Linked DNA regions of Homo sapiens: region 2 is linked to region 1. The links come from fine-mapping of genetic effects on gene expression. Tissue or cell type: tibial nerve. Region 1 holds a variant in brackets; the other region holds the start of a gene. All regions are shown on one strand. Distances are from middle to middle.

What was found. PIP is the estimated chance that this variant, and not a neighbour inherited with it, causes the effect.
Region 2: it holds the start of LINC02762, and the variant in region 1 is fine-mapped to the expression of LINC02762 in tibial nerve (GTEx, PIP above 0.99).

Annotation. Positions count from the first base shown.
Region 1 is chr11:112,519,443-112,527,640 of GRCh38, reverse strand. All of the region lies in intron 2 of LINC02763 (long intergenic non-protein coding RNA 2763), which reads right to left. Among named protein-coding and RNA genes, the nearest start is that of LINC02764, 32 kb to the left of the region's middle. The variant G/A (reference allele first, on the strand shown) is at 3,898.
Region 2 is chr11:112,267,015-112,275,190 of GRCh38, reverse strand. It overlaps LINC02762 (long intergenic non-protein coding RNA 2762), which reads right to left and starts at 4,442. Exons shown (of 4, transcript NR_126004.1): 1 at 4,408-4,442. It also overlaps the pseudogene ST13P10.

The DNA of each region.
Region 1 (8,198 bases):
GGAGCAGAGAGTTCACCCACTTCTTTCCCTGGAAGCAAGAATGGAAAGAGCCTCAGCTCCTGGCTCCAGGCAGGCTGTTACCCAGGGGCTCACAGAGCATGAGCAGCCTCCATGGAGTGGGAAGGGCTCTGTGGTGGACCCTCCAGCAGGCAGCATAGCCACCTGCCAGGTGTTCACCTCTCCAGGACTGCCTCTGCCTAGCCTGGACGTAGAACCTAATCTCAAAGAGGACTTTTGTTTTTTAAGGATTTCCTTCCTCAGGCTGGATTTCTCTCCACTTTCCCAAATCCCTGCTGTCCCTAGGATAGGACTCATTTATTCATCTCAGTAAACAAACATGCACTGAGCACTTACCACAGGGAGGATCCCACAACTCGCCCTTGTTATTGTGTAATGTGCAGTCATCTGGTAGAGGCTGCAACCACCCAAAGACACAATCAGAAAGCATGTGGAGGGAGGGGGTCCAGAGAGAAGTCTAATCCAGTCTGAGGGCACTCCTCCAGCCCACTGAGACATCCCTGGGGGATCCTCATTCTTTCCCAGTCAGCCCTCTGTTCTCCATTTATCTCCTTTTCAATGATTCTCTCTTTTCCTTCTTCCCTAGACATCTGGAGTCTCCTGCTGATGTGGGCAGTTTCCTGCTTCTCCTGTAGATAGTGAGAGCCTCACACCCCTACAGGGAGGTGTTGCCTGCAGTCTCAGCTCAACACCCTGGTCACCCTTTGCTCGCACTTGCTGACTTAGTCAGACCTCAGATTGAAGCATCTGAGGATGATGGGCTGTGTGACTAAGGAAGGGGCTGCCCCACCCAGAAGTTTAGATTACATATTTGTGTGCAGGACCTAGCACAGATAGGTCTACCCAGCATAGCTTTTTCTAACTTTGATTTAGACTGAACTCTAGAAGAGCCAAGCAGAATGTAAACCTCATGTTGGGGAGGTCAAGTTACTTTCTAGCTCAAGATTCTAGAGAGACAATTTAGCAACGTGGGCTTTGAGGTCAGGCTGCTAAGGTTCAAATCCCAGCTCTGATACTGGTTAATTAACCATTAGTGGAGTTATTTATCCTCTTTAAACCTGAGTTTCCTCAACTGTAAAACGGGGTAATAATAGCTCATACTTCATGGTGTTTCTGTGAGGATTAACTCAGATAATTTGTGTAAGCCTTCCATAAAGTGCCTGACACATGGCACTCAATAAATGTCAGCTTTATTTTTGGAAACCCGTTTTAGGTATTGGATAGCCCAGACCCCAAGCAAGGCTCTGTGGGAGCCACATCTTGCTGAGAGTGACAGGAAGAAGTTATTTTTAAAACAGATTACATTGCTGGGTTAAGTCCCACTTTTGGACTCTGTTGCCTTTCTCCTTTGATTCCTTCTAGGTGAATCCTAGACGGGTGCCCAGCATTTTGCTTCAATCAACTCTAAGGAAAACACACTCTGGAAAGTCTGCTAATCTAGTCTAGCAACCCAGGGCTGGAAGCTAGGACCAACTAGAGTGACTCACAGCAAATCTCATCTTTCCCTGGAGATGCAGAAAGGAAAGACACCAGACACCGTCACTGAAACTGCCTTGCAAGCCCCCACCTCCCATCACTGCACCAGGAACTTGTGTTTCTCACTTATGACTTGACCCTGGAGGGCTCTCCTCCTCTATGACTCCCCTCTGAGGATGCGGTCACTGCATCAGCCATCTCAGGCAGCACCCTTGAGTTACATGCAAACTGCTTCCCCTCAAAGTTGCGGTACACACCTTACACAGCTGGTATGGTGGGCCGTTGTCAAGTTTCCTGGCTGCCCAGCCCCTTTAAACACCCTTCTTACATTAGAGGAATTTTCCATCCTATGCATCCTGCCTCCTAAAAGTAGAAACAATAACAGTCACTTTCCCAGCCTCCTTTGCAGCTAAGACATAAGCAGGTGGCTGAGGAGCTGCTGGGATGATAAGGTGACATTCTGGGGCCAGATGTGGCATGGACACTGAAGGCAGCAGTGGTGACAATGGTCATGTTCCTGGCAAATTGTGATACAAATTAGAACATCCAGTTGGCGGCAGTGGCGGTGCCACAGCAGTTTTCTCATTAAGCCAGTTCTGCCACGTGTAGTGGAACATTATTCTGCACGTGTAGCCTGGGGCCTGGTTTCCCAGGCTCTGCTGATTCTGTGAGACACCCAACATCCTGTTACTAAACCTTTCCTGCTGTGTCAGCCAGAATTGGCTTCAACTGCTTACCATGAGGAACCCCGATTCCTACAGGCAAAAACCACAGGGAACACATGGTGGCAACATAGAAGTCAAGTCTTACTGAGATCTCTCTTGCTTAATAGATATGTCCAAACCCTTTAAATTCCTGTGCCCCTGGTCCTGTCCCAAAAGGAAACCTCAGACTTTATGTTTTTTTAGGCAAGTGGAGCAGGTTGTGACCCTGCAATCCAGCCTGAGAAGGCATAAACAGCATCTCAGCATTTGTCAAAGCAGCTTCCTCCAGGGGAGAGGTCAAAGCTGTCTTTGTTGGGATGATTCCAAAACAGGCTCCAGGGGCCACAGCTACAGGCTGAGACCAAAGGCCCTCCTCAGGCAGCTGACACACAGTAAGCAAAGGGCCCGAGGTCATGCCTGGGTCCAGAGCTTGAGGGCTCTGAGGTCAGGCCAACACAAGGAATGGTGACGGGAAAGACTGAGGAGCTCAGGCCCGCTCAGAGACATGTCATGAGTTCCTTGGCTGCAGCTCCTGTCCAGGGCTTGGGAGCAGCCACGTTAAGCCCTTCCAGAGCCCTGGCACTGCTGACAGAAATACTGGCAAGGTGCCTGGTCACATATAAACAAATTATCCTTCCCACACTCCTGAGGAACTGAAGAAGGAAGGCATGGAAGACCCTGAGAACCATGCTGGGACTTCTCTACACGCTCCCTGCTAAGGGTCTTCCTGTTTCCAAAGACCCTCTGGTCAGGACACTTGTCTAGGAGACAACTGGCCTCTGGCTAAGGAACAGAGGGGAGATGAAGACACGGGGTAGCTGGAATGCAAGCTGTGAGTTTGGAGCTCTCTGAACCATCTCTTCCAGGTGACTGGGGGTAGCTGGAATGCAAGCTGTAAGTTTGAAGCTCCCCGAACCATCTCTTCCAGGTGACTGCTTGGCTGAGGTCAGAGAGTCTGGGCCAATATGCAAAAAGAACCATGCCAAGCAGAGCAAGAGGAGAGCTCCAATGTCAGAGTGCGAGGTGTTGAACCCACTGTGCCAGATCTACTTCTGGTGACAGGGGGCAAGAAATTTCCCTTTCTGCTCAAGCTAGTTCGGGGGGTGGCTTTTGCCACTTGCAATCAAAATAGGCCAGACCACCACAGGTTCCTGAGACAGAGCCTTAAACATGTTTCCTGTTCTCTGTATGCTCACAACAGTGGGGACAAGCCATCATTTCATGGAAGGAGAGCCACTGTGCTTCTTCTGGATAGAAAGGCAGCTCTTGTTAGTGCATGACCTATGATTACCCCACAACAGAGCTAACATCATTCAAACATCCACAAAATAGCCTACAGTCATGCACCAAGTCACAGCCTTTTGGAGAAGCTTCAGCATGAAGTCCAGAAGACTTTAGTCTGTAATTCCATATAGATACAGACAAAAGATCCAGGTTTTTTCTCCCCTCCAGCCCTCATCTTTGGCCCTGACACCCTCGGATTGCCAGGCTTGTCTCAGAAGATGCTGGGAACTGTCTAACTGCCCCTACCAAGTTAAGCACAGCAGGAGGCAAATAAAATGAGGCCCCGCCATCCCATTGTCCTGGGCCCCTCCCACCTTGGGCTGTCCAGATTCAGGGCTGGGCACCAAGCTTAAGCCACACTCCCTACATTCTTTTTTTGGGAAGCTGGCACAGACCTCCAGGCCTTAGCCCAGCA[G/A]CAACTGTAGCTTTGTTACCCTGGGGCATGGAAATTTCCCTCTCCCTGACAGCCTCATTCATTTGTCTCTTAATTAGACACAGTCCCCCACGGTGCTGTGTCCTCCACTGTGATCTTTGACAAGCTCCTAGAGGGCCTCCCCACTGAGTCATGTGATCAGAGGGAAGTCATCCAGTCCAGCCCCTGCTTTAGGCTCACTCCCAGCACCCCCGCAGCTCCCAGCCCAGAAAGGGAGTCACGTCTCTGAGAGGCAGCTGTACCATTGCCGGCTTTTCAGTTGTTAGAAATTTCTTTTCCCTATTCAGCTAAAATTGGCCTCCCTTCCACCCCATTCCCCTTCTATCTTATCACAGATGTAGTTCATTTTCACATCCATAGGACAGGAATTTATTGAAAAACAGATCTTTTTGTCCTTATAAAAAAAAAAAAACTCTTTTTCACCTAAACAACCTGTTTCCTCTCCTGTTCCTTATGGTTTTCAGACCCACAGCCATTCTATCCATGGTTGCCTGGATACTTTACACAAACAAACGTTAGACTACACTGCAGCATCAGAACTAAAATCTACTTCAGGTGAGGTCTTAAAAAAAAAAAAAGCCCACACATTAGTTAATTATAATTTAACTTATATCCCTCCCCCTCACTGTCTAGAACTTGAATAGTTGGTGAGATAGAAATGGCTAGTTGCCTCCAAATATCCATTTCCCCTTCTTTTCATCAACAGGATCTAATTTTTTAGCTGGGCATACTGTCACCTGGGTAAAACAGTCCAATTCCAATCATCCATTGCAGCTGTGTTACATGTAACTAATTTCTAGCCAAAGAGACATAAGCAGAAATGTGTGAGAAACTTCCTGGAAGCCTCCTTAAGAGTGAGAAGGTGGACCCTTCTTTCTGCCTTCTCCATTCTGCTTCTGGAACTCAGATGTGATGCCTGGAACTCTAGCAGTCATCCTGGACCACGAGGATGTGGACTGTACACTTGAGCAATTAGAAGGGAACTGGTTCCTGACAACTCTGTGTTGCTGGCTGCCCCCACTAGCTTGGGATTGCCTAACTCTAGACTTGTTTTATGCAAAAAAAAAAAAAAAACTTCTCCTTTATTTAAGCTATATAGTATTTGAGTGTTTTCTTAAATATGCATTAAGACCTAATCCTAAATTTGCCACCCTGAAGTTATTATAATGAGTTGTATATGTACCCCAAGAAATTTCTCAACCAGATAATTCTGAAGAAACTCCAGCTCTCATCGCAATTTTTTTCTCTTGTCTTTTTTAATGCTTAACAAAACTTTGCTGAAGACTTAGAGATAACAAAAATATTATAACAAAGGAAACAAATTTGGCATACTCGTTTTCTATGGATGTCCTAACAAATTACCACAAACCTGATGACTTAAAACAATAGAAATTTATTCTCTTCATTCTGGAGTTCTAGAAGGCCAGAAGTCTGAAGCCAGTATCACTGAGCTGAAATCAAGGTGCTGACAGGGTTATGCTTTCTCCAGAAGCTCTAGGGGAGAATCCTTCCTTGTCTCTTCCGGTTCCAGGTGGCTTCTGGCATTCTTTGACTTGTGGTTGCATCACTTAAATTTCTGCCTCTACAGTCACATTGCCTTCTCCTTTTTTTAAATGTCAAATATCCCTCTTCCTCCCTCTCAGGAGGACACATATGATTGTTTTTAGGACCCACCTAACCAATCCAGGATAATCTCTTTTTCTTAAAATCCTTAATTACATATGCAAAGGCCTTTTTTTGCCATATAAAGTAATATTCACTTGTTCCAGGGACGAGGACATGGATATCTTTGGGGAGCCATTATTTTAGCCTACCACACCTGGATGTTACGGAGAGCTCCTCTCAGAGCTGAAGCCCTAAGACGATAGTGGTGTCTTATAGTGGTGGTGTCCCCCACCCAGGTCCTGGTCTGTGTCATACTACAAGGACAAGCTTTCTGTCCAGCACAGAGTCCTGGAGCACACCTCCCATAGCTGAGGTATACATAGTTTCCTGACTCCCCCAGACCCAAAGAGAGGGACCTGTTTCTTATGTTTGCCTCTGCCACCTGCCTTTATATCCCACTGCCAAGTCAAAAGCCCACCTGGCCCATTCTCCATCTCCCGTACGAGGATTGGCCTCTTCATAGGATGATAGACAGTGGGATTGCCCAAAGGGATGTAGGGTCCTAGGACTCTAAAAGTCAATGGATCACCTCAGAACAAAGTGACAAAAGATTCACCTATTCATTCATTCAAAGAAAGGTAAGATTGTAAGGTGGCAAGCCTGTATTGCAATTGGAATCATGTAGGCTTGAGCTATAATGCCATCACTTGCCAGTTACATAATCTCTATAAGCCTTTGTTTCCTCATCCACAAATAAGAAGATAGAAAGGAAAATAATGTCCACATTGCAGGGTTATTTTGAGAATTAGGAAAAAAATGTTATGTGTGTGAAGCATATAGCACCAAGCCCGGCTCACAGGAGAAGCTAGATACGCTGAGACTAGGACTCATCCACTCAGTTTTCCCTTCAATAGTGGACTGAACATCCTACTAATGCTGGAGGTGCAGTCATGACCCAGGCAGGCTTGCCATGAAGATGCTCAACCCAGGTCAGATTCCCACACAAGTCATCTACAATGGGATATGTACTCCAGTGCAGTTTTGAACAAAGTCTGGTGGAAGAAGCTGTTGGCTCTTGAGGTTCTTGGCTTGTCATTTTCTCAAAACAATACAGCACAGAAAAATTTACAGAGAAGAGTACATTTGTGCACAGGGCCCCACCATCTAGTAAGGTGGCTGCTGGAAACTCCACTTCCTGACTGCAGATACTGACTTTGAGAGACACTCAACTTGCAAAGGGTGGAACTGAGACCTTCTGCTCATCAATTACTCATATGAGGAAAACAGCTTCCAATTTGGGATTTTTAGTTAAATGCTAAAAATTGGAGGTAAATTAATTAAGATATAACTTCAACAACACCAGCCTTCCCTCAACAGTTCCTAAGACAGGACGGGCAGCATTAATTGTTGCAATTAATTAGGCATTAAACTGATAATGGGTACAGCTGCTAACAATTAACAGCTAATTATGTCAAGCACTTTAACCATTTCACAAAAGAAATGGAAATTGGAGGGAAGGGAGAGTGAAATGAAAAGAGAGAAAGCAGTTACCTCATAAACAAATGAGAGGCAGTTAGCACCAAATGCAGCTGGATCCTGTTGTAGAAATGACAGAGAAAGTTGGTACCAGCCCTGTCCCCAGCAAGGCTGAGCTTCAGAGAAGCCACGTGACTCTGAATTTGAACAGAAGAGACTTGAGTCAAATTGACCTGAATAGTGATCAGAGCCAAAGTATGACAAGCTTCATTCTTAGTGCTTAGTGCATATATATATATATATATATTACATATATTATGTATTTTCATATTATATATATTTTATATTATATGTAATATATAGAGTCAACTTTTATTTTAGATTCAGGAACACATGTGCAGGTTTGTTACATGGGTTTATTGCATGATGCTGGGATTTGGGGGACAAGTGAGTCCCATCACCCAGGTAGTATGCATAGTACTCAATAGGTAGTTTTTCAGCCCCTGGAGCCCTCTTACTTTTCCCTCTTGTCCTAGTCCGTTTTCACACTGCCATGAGGAGCTTTCCTGAGACTGGGTAATTTACAAAGGAAAGAGGTTTAATTGACTCTCAGCTGCATGGCTGGGGAGGCTTCAGGGAACTTCTAATCATGGCAGAAGAGGAAGCAGGCACCTTCTTCACCAGGTGGCAGGAAAGAGAAGAGCAGGGGAAACCACTTCTATAACCATCAGATCTTGTGAAAACTCACTCAGGGGCCGGGCGCGGTGGCTCATGCCTGTAATTCCAACACTTTGGGAGGCCAAGGGGGTTGGATCACCTGAGGTCAGGAGTTCAAGACCAGCCTGGCCAACAAGGTAAAACCCGCCCCCCTACTAAAAATACAAATGTTAACCCAGGCGTGGTAGCAGGCACCTGTAGTCCCAGCTACTTGGGAGAATGAGACAGGAGAATTGCTTGAACCTGGGAGGCAGAGGCTGCAGTGAGCCGAGATCGTGCCACTGCACTCCAGCCTGGGTAACAGAGTGAGACTCCATCTCAAGACAAACAAACAAAAAACCATACAAACAAAAAAACCTCACTCATTACAAGAACAGCATGGGGGAAACCGCCCCCATAATCCAATCACCTGCCTCCCTTCACGCGTTTGGATTACAGGTCCCTCCTTCAACAGGTGGGGATTGCCATTCAAGATGTGACTTGGG
Region 2 (8,176 bases), 250 kb after region 1:
GAATGAACTGGACCTGCATACCCTCCTGTAAGCCACCAATGTCACCAAGGGTCCCAGTGTGCATTATAACTGTCATTGACCAGACAGACCCTGTACTAGGTGTTGTACCTACATTACCTCAGTGAATGCCACCTAACACTATGTGCCCAAGACCACGAAGACTTCCAGCCAGGGAGCTCAAACTCGAGGGCACATAAGAATCACCTTGGAGCTGGTTAAAATGACACAAAAAGTTATGGCTCCTAAATCTGGAGTGGGGTCCAGGAAAATGCATTTTAAATAAGCATCTTGTGGGGCCTTCAGCATCTGCATCACTGTCACAGGTTGCTTATTAAAAATGCATGTTCCTGGCTGGGTGTGGTGGCTCATGCCTGTAATCCCAGAACTTTGGGAGGCCAAGGCAGGTGGGTCAGTTAAGCCCAGGAGTTCAAGACCAGCCTGGGCAACATGATGAAATCCCATCTCTACAAAAAATACAAAAACTGGCCAGGTGTGGTGGTGCATGCCTATAGTCCCAGCTATAGGGAGGTTGAGGCAGGAGGATCACCTGAATCCGGGGAGGTCGAGGATGCAGTGAGCTGTGATTGCATCACCGCACTCCATCCTGAGCCATAGAGTGTAACCTTATCTCAAAAAAAAAAAAATGCATGTTCCTGGACCCCCCCACCTCTGACCTACAGATCCAGAACCTGTACGCTCCAGCCCAGCCCTAATAGGCTAGTGGCTTCCCTTTGGACCCTTGGGACCAGCCAGTCTAGTCACACCACAACCATTGTCCTCAGAGAAAGCCCGTCTCACCATTTGTCCTCCACAGAACATTCCTCCAACCTCCTCCTCCCGTTCTCACTATTCTCTCCATCGCAAACCTTCCCTCTCTGCCACTTAAAACTTCCACTGCTGAGTGAGCTCCCCTACATCTTCCACTCATTCCTTTCCCTTATGAGCTTAGATGAAACCACCAGGGGAAAAATGGCAGACATGAGCTGCAATGATGGCCACCACCCCAACTCAGGGGAGCTCAGTCATCTTAGGCAGCAGGCAGCTGCAGTGATAATGGCTGCCCCCACCCCCCTGGAAACTCTTAGCAGAGTTAACAGAACAGAGCTGTTAACAAAGCTGTGCAGAGTTAACTTAACAGAGCTGTGCAGATTCTCAGCAGCCACTTGACTGGGGTCTTAGGCAGTCTCCAGTCAAGTGGCTGCTGAGAATCTGCACAGCTCTGTGCTTGGGACCCAAGGCCCTGGTAGTGTAGCTCAAAAGTGGGATCTCCTGATCTGTGGGTTGCGCAGATCCGTGGAAAAAGTACGGTTTTCTAGCAGGGTAGCATGATCACTAACCACCTCCCTTGGCTTGGGGTGGGAGCTGCCCTTTCCCCGTGTGGCTCCCAGGTGGGCCGTCGCACCACCCGGCTTTTCTTCACTCTTCATGGGTCACATCAACTGCTTAGTCAGTCCCAGTGAGAGAACCTGGATACCCTGGTTGCTGGTGCAGGATTCACTTGCCATTTTGGTTCCTCCCAGTGGGAGCCTCTGACCACAGATGTTTCTAGTTGGCCATCTTGGCCTCTCCCCCCAGTACTAATATTTTTATATGAAGAAAATAGTATCTTTGAGGTTTTAAAGGCAACTGTGAAATAAAATTGTTTCACCTCCGGGTGAAAAAAATAAAAATAATAAACAAATAAAAATAAAACTCTGTTGCCTACAGATAGAATTCAAAATGCTTAGCATGACCTATAAGACCTAGCATGACTTGGCCCCTATTTACTTGCCAGCAACAGCATCTGTCACTCTTTTTCTTGAACATTACCTTTTCATTGTTCCCTGCTCACATCACACTGTTTTGTAATTCCACACTTCTCTCTTCCAGGAACATTCACCCCAACCTACCCCTATCCTTCAAAACAGTTCATCCAGGATGGCTGCAGTGACTCACACCTGTAATCTCAGTGCTTTGGGAGGCTGAGGCAGGAGGATTGCTTGAGGCCAGAAGTTTAAGACTGCAGTGAACTATGATTCACGCCACTGAACTCCAGAGAGAGAGAGAGAGAAGAAAGAAAGAAAGAGAGAGAGAGAGGGGGGAAGGAAGGAAGGAAGGAAAGAAAGGAAGGAAGGAAGGAAGGAAGGAAGGAAGGAAGGAAGGAAGGAAGAAGGAAAGAAAGAAAGAAAGAAAGAAAGAAAGAAAGAAAGAAAGAAAGAAAGAAAGAAAGAGAAAGAAAACCAGCTCATCCACCATTTACCCAAAAAGCATTCTTTCCCTTCTTTTGTACTCCTAAGGCTTACCTCTATCTTAGCATTTACGCATTATTTTGAAATTATGTTTATGAACCTGCCTCTTAACACTAACCAAAAGCTATTCAAAAAGAGGGATAAGCCAGGCATGGTGGCTCATTCTGTAATTCCTTTGGGAGGCCCAGGTAGGAGGATTACTTGAGGCCAAGAGTTCAAGATCAGCCTGGGCAACATAGCAAGACTCCATCTCTACAAAAAAATAAAAGTTTTAAAAAGGAGAAATCTTAACTGGTCTTTATGCCCCTGCCCTAAAGCTTACCACAATGCCTGCCACATATTGGACCCTCAAAACAAATTATTGATTAATTTTCACAATGGGACTACAAGGCAGGCATTACAAATGAAAAAAACTAAGTCCCAGAAAGCCAGTTACATTCCAGGGGATGGGAGGGCAGCAACTTGAAACCAACTCTACCGCTAAGGCCTAGGCTCTCTCAAGTACAACCTGGAAAACATGAGTGAGCAAGGAGATGGAGGTGAGAATGAGGTGTCAGGGCACCCACCCAGGACATGATGCGTGAGGAATGGAGGGATATGAAGGTGGACAAGATTCTCAAGGGTGGAAGAATATGGTCATGAGGCCTTGGCATTGTGGCTTCTAAGCAGAGCCCTGATACGCTAAACTGCCTGGCAATATCAGGCCAGGCAGTTTGGTCTGACATTGCCAGTTTAGCTGCCCAGGCATGTCTGCTAGCTAAATCTAAATGCTGGGCCTGAGGTCAACGTCCCCACAAATACCCACAACTCTGCTGCACAACCATATTCAGAGTCCTGCACTTACTCAGCCTCTGCTTGCTGAGCAAGCAGATACTACCTCTCTTGAGCACAAGCCTCCAGGAAGTTCCTAATGTAGATCAAGGTGGGAATATCCATGGAATATCCAAATTATATTAGAAGGCCAGGCAGGGTGGCTCACATCTGTGATCCCAGCATTTTGGGAGGCTAAGGCAGGCGGATCACTTGGGACCAGGAGTTTGAGACCAGCCTGGGCAACAGGAAAAAACCCTCTACAAAAAAAAAAAAAAAAAATTAGCCAGGCATGGTGGCATTCACCTGTAGTCCTGGCTACTCAGGAGGCTGAGGCAAGCGGATCAATTGAGCTCGGAGATTGAGGTTGCAGTGAGCCATGATGGCACCACTGCACTCTAGGCTGGGTAACAGAAGGAGACCCTCAAAACAAACAAGCATACAAACTAACAAACAAAGTATATTAGAAGATAAATAAATATGGACTTGAGTGGACAAGAGCATCTTTGCGCCTCAGCCTCTCCTGAGAGGTGCCTCTTCTCCCACCCACCTTCCAGGGGCCTTCCCCTACAAACCTAAACATAGAAGGCAGCCAATGAAAGGGACCAAGAGGCAGATTCCTGAGATAAGCCAAGGAAAGCCCAGGCCCAGGAGCCCACAGAATGAAAAGAATATTCTCAGACAGTAGCAAAACAGGAAGACTGTTCGACACAGCTGAATGCATGCATCAGAACATGGCCGTCCCCTGCACACCCTTCTCTGGAGCTCTTAGGCTAGAAGATGATTTCTTCTGGACAAGGAAGACACAGGACATGGGGTGAAAATAATTCCAGCAAAAGAAAGCTAAATACACCATCCCGTGTTTACAAAACACAGGAAAAGTAGCGAGGGTATAGAGAACCAAGGATAAAGGCAGGATGCCCTTTTCTGGTAAACTTCATGCCAAACAAAGGTGAAGGGCCAGGATTAGCTCATTAGCGGGGAACTCAGGGCAAGAACACCCTGCCCTCTGTTCTGTCCTCACCTGAATCTCTGGGACGAAGCCAAGTTGTCACCTCCCTAAATGGTTCTAGAAACAGAAGAGTTCATGCCCTGCCTGGGGAAGGGACTTCTAGGTCTTCAGCTCTAATCATATGTTTTATGCACAGGTGGAGACATTCAGATCCATGGCCCTCACCCTGTTTCTGCTCTGCAGACTGAGATAAGAGCCTTACGTTTACAAAGTTTCACAAGAAACTGGAATTTGTTGCCCTTCTTTTCCACCTCCCTTCAGCCAGCTCCACTTTTCCTCGGATGCCATGGAGACTCGTAACCAGCTGGACAGCATACATCCCAGAGCTGGAGGGGAGCACAAGCGACCCTGACTCACCTGCCGTTGCTCAGAAGGGAGAGAAACCTGTGAAACTCGGAAATTCCCTCTGGGGGAGGTGTGGCCAGCTCCCAGGCACCACCTCCGCGGAATCTCTCCAATCATAACAAGAAGAAGGAAAACAAGCAGTTATCCAGTGCTTTCTCTATGCCAGCCATCACGCTCCACAAGTATTATGTCGTTAAAAGTTCCCAACAGCCTTATGAGATGGGCACTGTCATTCTCCCCACTTTGTGGATAAGGAAATAAAGCAGTCGCATAAATTGGTCTGGGGTCACCCTTGGTTTCCCATTGGAGTGTAGGCTTCCTGAGGTTAGAAGTTGTTTTTATGGGCTGGGTGCAGTGGCTCACGCCTGTAATCCCAGCACTTTGGGAGGCTGAGGCGGGCGGATCACCTGAGGTCAGGAGTTTGAGATGAGCCTGGCCAACATGGTGAAAACCCGTCTCTACTAAAAATACAAAAATTAGCCCGGTGTGGTGGCAGGTGCCTATAATCCCACCTACTCGGGAGGCTGAGGCAGGAGAATCGCTTGAACCCAGGAGGCGGAGGTTGCAGTGAGCTGAGATTGTGCCATTGCACTGCAGCCTGGGTGACAGAGTGAGACTCCCTCTCAAAAAAAAAAAAAAGAAGTTGTTTATATGACGCTTTGGGAGTGATATTAAGAACATAAATGCTGACTGACCAACTGAAAGATTCGAAGCACCGTGGGTATTTAATAAATGTTATTATTGATTGCTATTAAAAATCATTAATATGATTTTATATGTCTCAGGAAGCAGTACTACAAATAATTCTGAAGTTACTCTATCAATAACAAATTATGTAAGTGACAAAATTGCATTTGTTCACAAGGCTAGAAATAGAGCCTAATTGTTTTCAGGAATGTGGACATTATTTGTTTTTGTTGATAAGAAAGATTAGCTGCTATGGTATAAGTAACGATATTTAGTTGCTACTACATAGTATCAAATCAGTGCAAAAGGAAAAATCACAGATCACGAGATATATGGCAGAAGTTAGAAGAATGTAAGGGAATTAAATGAATTAAAGGCTGTTTCTGTGACTCAATTAATTAAATGATATTGAAAAGAGAAGGTAGAAAGCTGGATTCAGGGCTGATTTTCAGGAGCCTAGTTGTAAATAATTAGACCACCCCTTGGATGTGTACACGACATCAATACCTCATAGCCTCCACAGGAGCAGGGTTCATCTCCTCCTCCCAGTACCTGCAACAACAGAACCAACACGGAGATGCCAGCACGGAAATTCCCACGATCACAAACCCCACCTTTCTCTTATCATTCTGCTCTACCTTTCTTTTCCCTATATCCTTAACTTCTTACATTTTAAATCTTGTTTTCCTGTAAGCTGCTTTAAGTCCTACCTGAATAAGGCAGGGTATCAGAAAATCAATACACTCTTCAGGAACTTAACCGAAGGGAATTTCCTGTGAGAGCACATGGCCTTGACTTTGCCCCTGGAAAGGTGTCCTCGTCACATCCTTGTCAGACCACCACAGGAACCCACAGTTCATCCTGCCTGTTCCAATTCATGTCCCACTCATTAAACCGTCCTGGTTTTTTTGTTTTGTTTTGTCTTATTTTGTTTGCTGCTGAATCCTCTGGTTAAACAGCAGGAGCAATGCAGCCAAATGTCTTGATAAAATGTCACACCTTTCCATGAAATTTCTAAGTGTAGCTATGCAGGACAGAGGAAGAGCCACTTGTTTCCAGTTACTGACCTAGGTGGGCTTAGTTCTCTTCAGGTTCCTGCAGTGGGTTTCCTCTCAAGCAGAGAATTCTTTCCTCTCAAAGGAAGAAGCCACACTAGCCATGTAAAGAGAGTGTCCAAACCTTCCTCTTCCGCAGCTGGAAATACCTTCCCAGTTCCTCTTCTGTTTGGGGACTGGGAAGCTCTGAGTCCCAACTTCTCTTGTCCAGTTTCACTTTCTCACCCACCAACCCCTGCTCTCACTCTACCACTAAGTGCCCTCAACACTGATCTCTCCCTAAAAGTGACTGAAATAAATGTCCAATTTTGGGGGGATGACTGATTCTAATGTTGGGAAGAGAAGCTTAAAAGATCTGACCTCCTACTCAGTGAGAAAGGGGTCCTTGAACACCCTTCTTGAGACGTAACCTCCCTACTCCTACTTAAATGCTAGCAATTCCTGCTTTTTGCCACAGTAATGCAAGGCATTTCTGGAAGTTACGATGCAAACTAAATCTTTTTAGATCTCTGGTTTCAAAACTTTGGATTTTAGGCACCTAGATAGGTGCTACGTTTTCATTTTGTTAAATAAGGACATTTAAAAAATAAATAGGTGCCCCCTTCTGCGCAGTCACACTGAGCCAGTGCCTAGGCCTGGAACCGGGCCACGGCCCCTCAGCTTCGTCCACCGCCTCCCGACCATGGACCCCCACAAAGTGAATGCACTTCGGGCTTTTGTGAAAATGTGTAAGCAGGATCTGAGCGTTCTGCACACCAAGGAAATGCACTTCCTGAGGGAGTGGGTGGAGAGCATGGGGGGTAAACTATCACCTGCTACTCAGAAAGTTAAATCAGAAGAAAATACCAAGGAAGAAAAACCTGATAGTAAGAAGGTGGAGGAAGACTTAAAGGCAGACGAACCATCAAGTGAGGAAAGTAATCTATTAATTGATAATGAAGATGTGATTGAACCAGACCCTGATGCCCCTCAAGAAATGGGAGATGAAAATGCAGAGATAACAGAGGAGATGATGGATCAGGCAAATCATAAGAAAGTGGCTGCTATTGAAGCCCTAAATGATGGTGAACTGCAGAAAGCCATTGACTTATTCACAGATGCCATCAAGCTGAATCCTCAGTTGGCCATTTTGTATGCCAAGAGGGCCAGTGTCTTCATCAAATTACAGAAGCCAAATGCTGCCATCCGAGACTGTGACAGAGCCGTTGAAATTTATTTCAGCTCAGCCTTACAAGTGGCGAGGTAAAGCACACAGACTTCTAGGCCACTGGGAAGGAGCAGCCCATGATCTTGCCCTTGCCTGTAAATTGGATTATGATGAAGATGCTAGTGCAATGCTGAAAGAAGTTCAGCCTAGGGCACAGACATTGCGGAACATCAGAGAAAGTATGAGCAAAAACGTGAAGAGCGAGAGATCAAAGAAAGAATAGAAAGAGTTAAGAAGGCTCGAGAAGAGCAAGAGAGAGCCCAGAGGGAGGAAGAAGCCAGACGACAGTCAGTAGCTCAGTATGGCTCTTTTCCAGATGGACTTCCTGGGGGAATGCTTGGAATGAGAGGGGGCATGCCTGGGATGGCCGGAATAACTGGACTCAATGAAATTCTTAGTGATCCAGAGGTTCTTGCAGCCGTGCAGGATCCCAAAGTTATGGTGGCCTCTTCCAGGATGTGGCTCAAAACCCAGCAAATATGTCACAATACCAGGGCAACCCAAAGGTTATGAATCTTATCAGTAAATTGTCAGCCAAATTTGGAGGTCAAGAGTAATGTCCTTCTGATAAAGACCGTGCTGAAGGAAAAGCAACCTAGATCACCTTATGGATGTTGCAATAATACAAACCAGCGTACCTCAGGGGTGCTTTGAAGATAATCCATATCCCTCTCCCCCAAATGCAGCTGAAGCATTTACCATGGTTTGCCATTAGGGTATTCATTCAGATAATATTTTCCTACTAGGAATTACAAACTTTAAACCCTTTTTAAACCTTAAAAATATTTAAAACAAATTTAAAGGGACGGTTAATTCTTATATTTTTCTTTAC